Linked DNA regions of Homo sapiens. The protein of the gene in region 3 purifies or fractionates together with the protein of the main gene of each other region. This does not show direct contact. Each region holds a gene or a part of one and is shown on either strand. Other genes may lie near its edges. The genes, in order: CLK4, BDP1 and RGMA.

Evidence for each region.
Region 1: the proteins of RGMA (region 3) and CLK4 purify together in Homo sapiens (affinity purification with mass spectrometry; one large-scale study listed by BioGRID and IntAct). This does not show direct contact.
Region 2: the proteins of RGMA (region 3) and BDP1 purify together in Homo sapiens (affinity purification with mass spectrometry; one large-scale study listed by BioGRID and IntAct). This does not show direct contact.

Annotation. Positions count from the first base shown.
Region 1 is NC_000005.10:178,606,432-178,610,083, reverse strand, and holds part of CLK4 (dual specificity protein kinase CLK4), read left to right. Parts: intron 1-1,625; coding exon 1,626-1,708; intron 1,709-3,652. UniProt on the Homo sapiens protein: Dual specificity kinase acting on both serine/threonine and tyrosine-containing substrates.
Region 2 is NC_000005.10:71,458,553-71,462,204, forward strand, and holds part of BDP1 (transcription factor TFIIIB component B'' homolog), read left to right. Parts: intron 1-26; coding exon 27-303; intron 304-3,264; coding exon 3,265-3,374; intron 3,375-3,652. UniProt on the Homo sapiens protein: General activator of RNA polymerase III transcription. Requires for transcription from all three types of polymerase III promoters. Requires for transcription of genes with internal promoter elements and with promoter elements upstream of the initiation site.
Region 3 is NC_000015.10:93,087,029-93,090,780, reverse strand, and holds the start of RGMA (repulsive guidance molecule A isoform 3 precursor), read left to right. Parts: upstream 1-1,569; 5' UTR 1,570-1,848; coding exon 1,849-1,862; intron 1,863-2,257; exon of another isoform or gene 2,258-2,500; intron 2,501-3,752.

The DNA.
Region 1 (3,652 bases), on a different chromosome or scaffold from region 3:
CTCCTGACCTTGTGATTCACCTGCCTTGGCCTCCCAAAGTGCTGGGATTACAGGTGTGAGCCACCGTGCCTGGTTGAAAAATAAAACTTTTATGAGGTCCAAGCTCTAGCATTTACGGATTTTGTATGTGTTAATAGGTAGAAACCATGCTCCATTATTTATTTATTTATTTTTTGAGACAGAGTCTCACTCTGTTGCCTGGCCTGGAGTGCAGTGGTGCAATCTCAGCTCACTGCAACCTCTGCCTCCCGGGTTCAAGCGATTCTCCTGCCTCAGCCTCCTGAGTAGCTGGGATTACAAGTGCACACCACCACACCCAACTAATTTATATATATATATATATATATATTTTAAAATTTTTATTATTTTTTATTTTTGTTATTTGTTTATTTATTTTTTTGAGATGGAGTTTTGCTTTTATTGCCCAGGCTAGAGTGCAGTGGCGCAATCTCAGCTTACTGCAACCTCTGCCTTCCGGTTTCAAGCCATTCTCCTGCCTCAGCCTCCCAAGTCACTGGGATTACAGGCGTCTGCCACCACGCCCAGCTAATTTTTTTGTATTTTTAGTAGAGACGGGGTTTCACCATGTTGGTCAGACTGGTCTCGAACTGCCAACCTGGTGATCCACCCGCCTCGGCCTCCCAAAGTGCTGGGATTACAGGCATGAGCCACCGCGCCTGGCCCATGCTCTATTATTATCCATTTGTTCAAATGACAGACACTGGAGCGGATGGTTAACAAAAATGACTTAAGTCATTATATATTGACTTGAATATATTTCTTCTTTTATCTTTAACTTCAGTGATAATGAAAGTAATTGAAATGTCTTTGAATGTAGATTTTATTTATACATTTTTTAACTAAATATTTGATCTTTGAAATATTAAAATATCTATGTGGTTGGTTCTTTCTCCTTCCCAGTCAGTATAGATTTAAGAAGGCTAGATGTTTTATTCTGATCTGAATAATACTGTCATTGAGAATTCTGAAGGAGAAAGTATATAAAATCATGTATAGACAGCGCCGATGTTTATGTATAGATCCCTCTCTGAGCTCCAATGTGTCTGTAATTTCTGCTTATAGGTGAAACTGCTTAAAATTCCCATTATACCTTTTATACAATTTGTGCAAAACGGTAATATTTCTCTTAACGGAAGAAGTAAACTCATGCATCAAGCTGATGATAATTGATAAGGCATTAGTAATTTCATTCTGAGGATAATTATAAACCTGTATTTGTGCTAATAAAATATAAAAATTCTTGGACTAACCATGAACTGAGCATAATAATGGTTTTAACAGCAGTGCTCTCCCATTATATAAACAGTTCAGAGACTATGGAATATTTGCACGAATTGGTTGTATACTTGGAAAATGGTAGCCCCCTTTTATTTTACATAACATGCACCCCTCCCTAGTTAGAATACTGTGTCTTGATGTGAGCATATGGACTATGGAGTGTGTTGAATAGCATTTGCTGTAAAACTAGAACTATAAACCCTGAATTTGGTGTCTTATTCTCCCAAATGGGTTCTGTAAAGGGAGCACTCATATAGGGAAGGATTTAATGTACTGTCAATTAAAAGTTTTTGCATAGTAAAATGTTTCTATTTGTTTTAAAATAGCTTTAGGTTGGTCTCAGCCTTGTGATGTTTGGAGCATAGGTTGCATTCTTATTGAATATTACCTTGGTTTCACAGTCTTTCAGGTACGTGGCTAGTAAATTCCATTTAATAATTCATAACAAATTGTAAACGTTAAAGGTATGCTAAAGTTTTGACTTCCATATTGGAAAATTGCCATACATCATTATTCTTGAGATTAAAACTTAGGCAAAATGGTCATTCTTTAAAACCACAGTTGAATGAAATATTACTATGAGTGAGTGATCATAGTTAATTTTGCATGTGATTAGTGTTTGTAACACATGGTTCATATATGGTTCATACTGTCTCCTTTTTTAAATTGTAGAGCTTCTTCATAAATTTGCAGTAGTGTTAATGTGGCCAGTTTTCAGTTATAGTTATGTTGACTATCAATATGGCCATGAACGAGTCACTTATTCCTTTTTATAAAAGAATTCAGAAACAACAAGGGATTGTATTTTACTCTTAAGTATTAAGCATCTATAATGTCTTAGGCATTTCTAAGTATAAGTACATAAAGGTGAAGAGACAACATCTTTCTCAAGTCATGCAAAAGACATTGGAAAGTTATCGCAGTATAGTGTAGCATTTGCTGTGATGGAACAACGTAGAAAGTGTAGGTAGGGAGGGCCAGGCGGGGTAGCTCACACCTGTAATCCCAGCACTTTGGGAGGCTGAGGTGGGTGGATCATGAGGTCAGGAGATCGAGACCATCCTGGCTAACATGGTGAAACCCTGTCTCTACTAAAAGTATAAAAAATTAGCTGGGCGTGGTGGCGGGCGCCTGTAGTCCCAGCTACTCGGGAGGCTGAGGCAGGAGAATGGCGTGAACCTGGGAGGCGGAGCTTGCAGTGAGCGAGATCATGCCACTGCACTCCAGCCTGGACAACAGGGTGAGACTCTGTTGCAAAAAAAAAAAAAAAAAAAAAAGACAAAGTGTAGGTAGGGAGAACCCAGGAAAGGTTAATAATTACTTTAGAGAAGGCGTCACTGAGAACATAGGAAGAGGAGGAGGAGTTAGAAAACTGGAGTGCAATGGGCATATAAGGAAGAAGAAATAGTATCTGTAAATGCACAGAGGAGTAAAGGAACATATTCTACTCAGGGAAGAATAGCGTTGTCAGAGTGTCTTGTATAAATGGGAAAATTATAACAATAGGCAAGGATCAATTCATAAAAGACTTCGCAAGGTATTGGTTTGATCCTAGAAGTCAGTGGATTCCAAAAGTAGACTGGTCCAAAATGAAAATGGTTGTCTAGGTTTGCCATTCTGACCCTTATTTAGAGATTATCCCTCCTGCTTTTTTTTTTTTTAATGTCTCTTTTATGTAATGATAGTCATAGTTGTTGGTAGTTTGCTTTTAAAAATAAAAAGTCCTTAATTGGTAAAACAAAAAGTAGGAAACTCTACTTTCTTTTCCACTCTGTCCTTAAGTTGTACTTACATCTGAAATCTTAATTTTTTTTTTTTTTTCCCTGAGATGGAGTCTCACTGTGTCACCCAGGCTGGAGTGCAGTGGCGCAACGTCAGCTCACTGCAACCTCTGCCTCCCGGGTTCAAGTGATTCTCATGTCTCAGCCTCCCAAGTAGCTGGGATTACAGGCACGAGCCACTACACCCCACTAATTTTTTGTATTTTTAGTAGAGGGTTTTGCTGTGTTGACCAGGCTGGTCTCGAACTCCTGACCTCAAGTGATCTACCCTCCTTGGCCTCCCAAAGTGCTGGGATTACAGGTGTGAGCCACCGCACCCAGCCTGAAATTTAAATTCTTGAAAGCTTTAGGTGATGCAACCATTGAAGAACTTTAAATAGGGTCATGGTATGATCGAGGTGTTGTGTTGTTTTGTTTGGGGAAGAGGGGCTGGAGATCCCAGCTAGTACTGTTGAGGTTGATTTGAAGTTAGAGCAGTGCAGGGGGCATGCAGCTATGATGGGCTAAGAGTCACTTAGGCAGCTGTTGCACAATGATGAATTCCCTGTTCGTGGGGCACCTCGCCAGATTTC
Region 2 (3,652 bases), on a different chromosome or scaffold from region 3:
TCTTTTTTCTTTTTTAATTTCAACAGTACTGAAAAGACTGGTGGTGACAATGATGTTGAAGAATCCAGTAGATCTTCCTCTACTGTTTCACAGAGAAGAAAGCGAATATCAAGTACTTCTAGCCTGGTTAAGTCTAGTGTCAGTGTTCCTTCAGAATCTCATCCCTTATCTACAATTAATCAAGAGGCTCCACAGCCAACTGCCACTTCAACAAAAGAGAAACAGCCATGCTCAGACAGATACCGAATATACAAAGCCCAGAAACTGAGGGAAATGTTAAAAGAAGAATTGAGAAAAGAGAAGGTAAGGGAGGAGAATCAGGATTTTGATGTTGCCTTCTATTTATGTTAGTAAGGAATCATTGGGAAGAAAAGCATTTGTAGCATTTTGATGGGGGAACAAAACCACATAACATCCCTTAGTCAATAGAACATCCCTTCTTGTTAATGGATTGATTGATACACCGTGGACTTAAATTACATTTTTCACTGATAGTAATTTTTACATTATTTATTTATGTTTTCACTGTTTTTGGTGAAGACCACAAATAAGTTTCATACGCATACACATAGATGCACATACACAAACATATTTATAAAATAAACCTTCAGTCTGATTTTTCACATAAAGATGTCCAAGTGATAAGTGATATATTTATTTGAATTAAGACAAGTATAGGCCGGGCGTGGTGGCTCATGCCTGTAATCCCAGCACTTTGGGAGGACTAGGGGGGCAGATCACTTGAGGTCAGGAGTTCAAGACCAGCCTGGCCAACATGGCAAAACCCTGTCTCTACTAAAAATACAAAAATTAGCTGGGCCTGGTGACGTGCATCTGTAATCCCAACTACTGGGGAGGCTGAGGCATGAGAATTGCTTGAACCTGGGAGGTGGAAGTTGCAGTGAGCCGAGATTGTGCCTCTGCATTCCAGCCTGGGTGATAGAGTGAAACTGTCTCCAAAAAAAAGACGAATATAGTTGAGCAGAATGAATTGGTAATGTTTTCTAAATTGACTATGGAAAATTACAAGTGGGAAAAATTTGTGTTATGCATATATTAGAGTCCATGTTCTTTTTAATCTTGAGGATTGATTTCTTTTCTAGAAGGGCAGGTAACAGCAGTAGAGCATGCTGGCCCTGGAGTTAAATACTTAGGGATTGAATCTCAGCTTCATTTCTTTACTAGCTTTGTGACCTTGGGTAATTTAATTAATCTATTTCCTCATCTGTAAAATAGACCAATAATAGTTCAGGTTGAGCATCCCTGAAATTGAAAATGCTCCAAAGTCTAAAATGTTTTGAGTGCCAAAGTGATGCTCCAGGGAAATGCTCATTGGAGCATATTGGATTTCAAATTTTCAGGTTAGAGATGCTCAGCCAGCATGTATTCTGCAAGTATTCAAAAATGTGAAAAAATCCAAAATGTGAATCATTTCTGGTCTCAAGTATTTCAGATAAGAGATGCTCAACCTCTATCTAGCTCATTAGAGGGTTGTGAAGATTAAATGAGTCAATACATGTAAAACACACTTAAACTGGTGTCTTGGGCCTTGTGCAGTGGCTCACGCCTGTAATCCCAGCACTTTGGGAGGCCGAGGTGGGCGGATCACCTGAGGTCAGGAGTTCGAGACCAGCCTGGCCAACATGGTGAAACCCCGTCTCTACTAAAAATACAAACATTATCTGGTTGTGGTGGTGCACGCCTGTAATCCCAGCTACTCAGGAGGCTGAGACAGGAGAATCGCTTGAACCTGGGAGGCAGAGGTTGCGGTGAGCCAAAATCGTGCCATTGCACTCCAGCATGAGTGACAGAGCGAGACTCCGTCTCAAAAAAAACCAACCAAACAAAAAAACTAGTGTCATGAAAATAGTAAGTGTCCAACCAGTGTCAGCTTCTGTTATGAATTATAAAATGCCTCTTAGTTTTTTTTAAATTAAGGGAAGGCATTTTGCTTGGTGCTTTATATCTGTTATCTTATGTAATTATATCAACTATGTGAAGTAGATATCACTGTTTCACACAGGAGAAAACAAGCTTTCAATTTATGTCTTCTAAAATGTAAGCCTCACAACAATTGCTTGAACCTGGAAGGCGGAGGTTGCAGTGAGCTGAAATTGTGCTACTGCATTCCAGCCTGGGCGACAGATCAAAGCCTCTAAAAATGTTTTATGGGTTGGGAATTGGGGGTGGGGGGATTAAAAAAAAGTTCTGTATTTTACAGAAACTGCTTATTTGCTTATTTAATTTATTTTGGGGAATTAAAGATTAAACATTTGCTTCAAGAATTTTACAAAATACACAGAATTTCAAGTCACTACAGGGTAAAAAAAAAGCTGTGTAAGCATAAATTCTCAGTGAGCTATTAAGATGTTTAGTTAGAAGGCATCAGTAAGCATTTTATACATTGAGCTTTATTAGTTTTATTCTTTGGTTATTTATTTAGTTTTGAGACAAGGTCTCACTGTCACCCAGGATGGAGTGCGCTAGTATAATTGCAGTTCACTGCAGCCTCAACCTCCCAGGCTCAAGTGATCCTCCCACCTCAGCCTCCCAAGTAGCTGTGGCTATAGGCATATGCCACCACATCCAGCTAATTTTTTTGTATTTTTTTGTAGAGATAGGGTCTCATTTATGTTGCCCAGGCTGGTAACTCCTGAGCTCAAGCGATCCTCCTGCCTCAGCCTCCCAAAGTGCTGGGATTAGAGAAATAAGCCACTGTGCCTGGCCACATTGAGCTTTTATCTAGTCCTAGTCACTTTAATTGTTAAAATCTAAATACTGCCTGGGTGTGTGGTTCACTCCAGTGCTTTAGGAGTGTGAGGCAGGAGGATCACTTGAGCCCAGGAATTTGAGAGCAGCCTTGGCAACGTAGGGAGACTCCATCTCTACCAAAAAAAAAAAAACCCCACAAAATTAGCCAGGTGTTAGGCAAGCATCTGTAGTCCCAGCTACTTGGGAGGCTGAGGTGGGAGGACTGCTTGAGCTCAGGAGTTCAAGGCTGCAGTGAGCTATGATTGCGCCACTGCACTTTAGCCTGGATGACAGAGCAAAACCCCATCTCAAAAGTAGATAAATAAAAACTAAAAGCTATTGAGGGTAATGTGCTACAACTTTTTAATATTCCATCTACAAAATTACATAATTGGGGTGAGAATAATATTAAAGCACTTACAGTGAACGCAACAGTGGACTGTATATTTGCATATAGTACATCTGAAATTCTTTAATATTTATAAAAGTGGATCTGTGTGTTTATGTATACAGAAACAATGGAAAAACAAATATGCTATAAATGAAAGTCAGAGGCCACCAGATCGTTCAAAAATGACTATGAGAGACTTCATATATTATCTACCAGATAATAATCCAATGACGTAAGTAAAATTTATTTCTGCTTTACTATCTCTTTTTTTTTTTTTTTTTTTTTGGAGGTGGAGTCTCGCTCTGTCACCCGGGCTGGAGTGCAGTGGTGCAATCTTGGCTCACTGCAACCTCTGCCTCCCAGGTTCAAGCGATTCTCCTGCCTCAGATTCGCGGGTAGCTGGGATTACAGATGCTCGCCACCACACCCGGCTAATTTTTGTATTTTTAGTAGAGACTGGGTTTCGCCATGTTGGCTTGCCTGGTTTTAAACTCCTTACCTCGGGTGATC
Region 3 (3,752 bases):
ATGGTACGGTGGGAGAGGCCAACATGTAGGGAAAGGTCACTCTAATGAGCGCCTAATTACCGAGTGAGCTCAGTGTTAGGAAGGAAAGGCACGGATGTGAGGACTCCCTAGAGGGTGGGGAAGATGTTGGAGCTGAGCTATGAAAGATGAAGAAATTGGTTATTCACTGAATGTCAGGGCACAGAATGTCAGGGCAGGAAGACCACACACACACACACACACACACACACACACACACACACACACACCCTACTATTCATAGATGAGGAAACTGAGGCCCAGCAGAGCTAGATGACTTGCCGAAGGTCAGAGCTAATTCTAGAAACCCATCCCCAATCCCTTCCTGCTAAACCACTTAATTTTATTTATATCCCAGCTATAGATTATACAAATACACTTGACAAATAAAACGGAGAATATTGAGTTAAAACCACATCTCTGAAGACCACACGCATAAATAACGATCGTGTTTTAATGCGGACGATACCTTTTCATTTTGCAAATCCAGAGTTCTCATCATATCAAAATTCAAGACAGTTTGTTCTGTAAGAAGGGGAAGGTCATAACCCTGTCTAGAATGTACTGGCAAATCTCTCTAACCGTGCAGTGCTAATTTGGGCCTGAGCTGTGTAACCAGACCGACTTCACGCTCCAGCTGGGGTTTCAGATCCACACATGGCGATTGGGTGGCTCTTTGCTGTTTCACAGCAAGGGTCCTTCCCTGGGCTCCCGGAGCCTCTGGGGATTTACTGCTCCCGACGTGGCCGTGTTCAAGCCACTGTGTGCATGCGCTTAATGTTGAAAACATTCTTTTGAAAAGCCCAGGAGATTCCACTCGCAATCTGTGCGTGTGCATGTAAAAGCGCAGAGACTGGAAAGAACCGCGGCAGAGCACACCCTGACCGAAGGTTACCGCGGGGGAGCCGCGGCCGTGGGAGAGCCGCGGCCGTGGGAGGGAGTGCGATACGGTCTTTTCACTCTAGACACTCCTGAGTTATGTACAATTCTACGCAAGAATGTATGCGTGTGTTAGCATGTAATACATATGTATTAGTTTTTTCAGGAAGATTCTTAAACAACAACAAAATCTCTATAGAACAAAGGTGCGTCTCCGCAGAGCGCAACAGCATTTGTCTTGGATGTAACCGCCTTCTCCAGAAATCTCAGAGGAACTCCCCTCGACCACCGCCTAACTGAAGGACACCGTGCGCTCCACCGCAACCCTGCGGGCGATTCGGAAAGTTGGAGGCGCCCCGGGGAGTCGCCGCACTTGCCGCCCGCGCCCCCTAACCTGAGCATTCAAGGAGTCTTGACTTGGCCGCTGGCGCACTCCGCACCCACCCAGCCGGTGCTGATGCGGGAGGGTGGGGCCGCGGCGGGGCGGGGCAACGCGAGCCCGCACCCCGCTCCTCCCCGCCCCTCCCTGCCGGCCCCGCCCGCGCGCGCCCCCCGCCCGCGGCCCGGGCGCCCGGCCCGCCCCCTCCCCTCGGCGCGCAAACGAACCTCGCGACGCCGCGCTCGGCGGCGGGCGGGGGCCGGGCGAGGGAGGGGGCTGGTCCCGGCCGCCCCACTCTGCAGTTGTCTCCCGAGCGCTGGCTGCGCCGCCCGAGCCGCTGGGCCGGGGAAGCACTGGCCGTTCGCTCCCGGGCCGGCTCCGCCAGGCGCTCGCAGGCATGCAGCCCGGGAGCAGGAGGCGCTCCCCGGGCCGCTGCTGAGCCGGCCGGGGCGGCGGGGACCAGCGCCAGCGGAGCCCCTCCCACCTTGCCCCGGGGCAGACGAGCGGCGCCCCGACACCCCCTCTTCTCCCGCAGCCCCGCCAGCGCCACCCCCCGCGGGCCGCAGGGGCTCATGCAGCCGCCAAGGTAAGCGCGGGTCGGGAGCCGGGCAGACCCGGCTCTGACATCTCCGAGGCGCCGCCGACACATGCCGGGGCCACGGCGCTGCTTTGGTCTTCCTTAGCCCCGCGTCTCATCTTGCTCCCATCTTGCCCACATTTGGAGCTTTGCTGCGCCTCTATCGCTTTAGCTGTTGGCAGCAGGAAAGTTTTTGTGGTTTGGTGTTTGTTCTTTTTTCCTAAAATACTCTCCCCCGGGCAGCCGCCAGCGCGCGTGGTTGGGCAGACCCGGCACACGTCCCTTACACCGTGTGCGGGCTGGGAGCTCCTTCCCTCAGCCCGGCTCGCGGAGCCCCGGACGGAGCCGGCCACCCGACTGTCCCGCCGTGAACCCCCATTGGCCCGCGCCGCCCGGGCCCCCGCCTCCCGCTCGACGCCCGGCTGCGGAGCTGCCTGGCCATCTCCTGCCCTCGGGGATGTCGGCGCAGTGCACCGCGTGGGCTCGCGTCCCGGCGGCCCTTTGCCTCGGCGCGCCGGCGTACGGGAAGGTGCGGACCTTGGATTGAGGGCCGAGGATGCCCATTGCCAAGCCGCCCCGGCTTTCCTAAGTGGACGGGAGGGCACGGCGACGATTCAGCGCCGGCTCGCGCCGCAGCTCAACCCAGGGTACAAGCCCGGGCATGGGGGACAGGTGTATTCAATGGGAGGGCGGGTGTGGGGGACGCTCGGGTGCAATTCGGGATTGCGTCTTATTAATGTAATTGTATTAGACTTGCTCGGAGGTAGAATCAGTTCTCCCAAATTGAGATTTCTAATGGGAGCCTGTGAGCTGCTATTATGTGGTGTGGTTTTGGGAGGTGTTGGGTTGTATTTATTTTATAAATTGGGTGTCTCGCGGGCGGAGTAGGGGAAGTAGCGCCATCTAGCGGAAGTGGTGAGCTGTGCATTCCTCTTAGGCTGCGAAGTTGTTGGGTGTTCTCAAAGTAGTCTCCCGCACAAGGTGGAGAGGCGGGAACCAGCCCTCGCCTCCAGGAAGGAGGCTACAGAAGCTCTCTGAGTATCGACGGTACCAGGGAGAACCCCGACCTCCCATGCTCAGCACATTGAGCTCAGGGGACGAAATTGCGGGTCGTGTTGAGTGGCATGCTGTCACCTAAAGGAGCTCCATCACCTTCTCTGTTTGGTTTTAGACTCTTCCAGCAAAAACGTAATATAAAATGTTAACTGCTGTAAGAAGATGCCCCTTCCGCAGGTATCTGGTGCAGAGATCTTGAAAACCAATGCACAAACCTCTGTCTTCTCCTGTGCATCACAAACGGGTGATTTCTTGGGTGGATTTTGAGCCATGACCCCTAGAAAAGAGAGTAACTGTGCTCCGAAGGGCAACAGGAGGAGAACTGGGAGAGGGCCTCCTGCCCATTTGTGCAGGAACAGAATAGTGTACCCAAACTGGGTTTTGTGGTTTTTTTTTTTTTTTTTTTTGCACATACAAAGAAGGGGTTTCTTGCTGTTACCACAGCAAGTGACAAGCAAGCCCCCTTTACAGGGACATGATCTCCAATTAACAACTGGGGCAGACGTGGCTGGATGGCAAGTTCTGCAGACAAAGGCTCTGGGTGGGGCACCCACACATCCAGGCGGGCTCCACGTTCTCTGTGGCTGGTTTTTGCTGCCACCTTCCAGGCCAGATAATATATTAGCAGTGAGCTGGGCTCACCCGGTTCTGAAGGGCACCCTGGCCCCTTGTAGAGCAGTGTAGTGGTCTACTGTAGTACCCCCTTGAGACTCTCTGGGCTGTGCTGGTAGTGAAAGAGGTCTTAGCCTCCTTTTTTCAAGTACCCTGCTTCCATTATTTCCCTCCCAGGTGTCAGACAGTTGCTTACATTCTCCAATAGACATATGAAATGGTGGGTGGCTG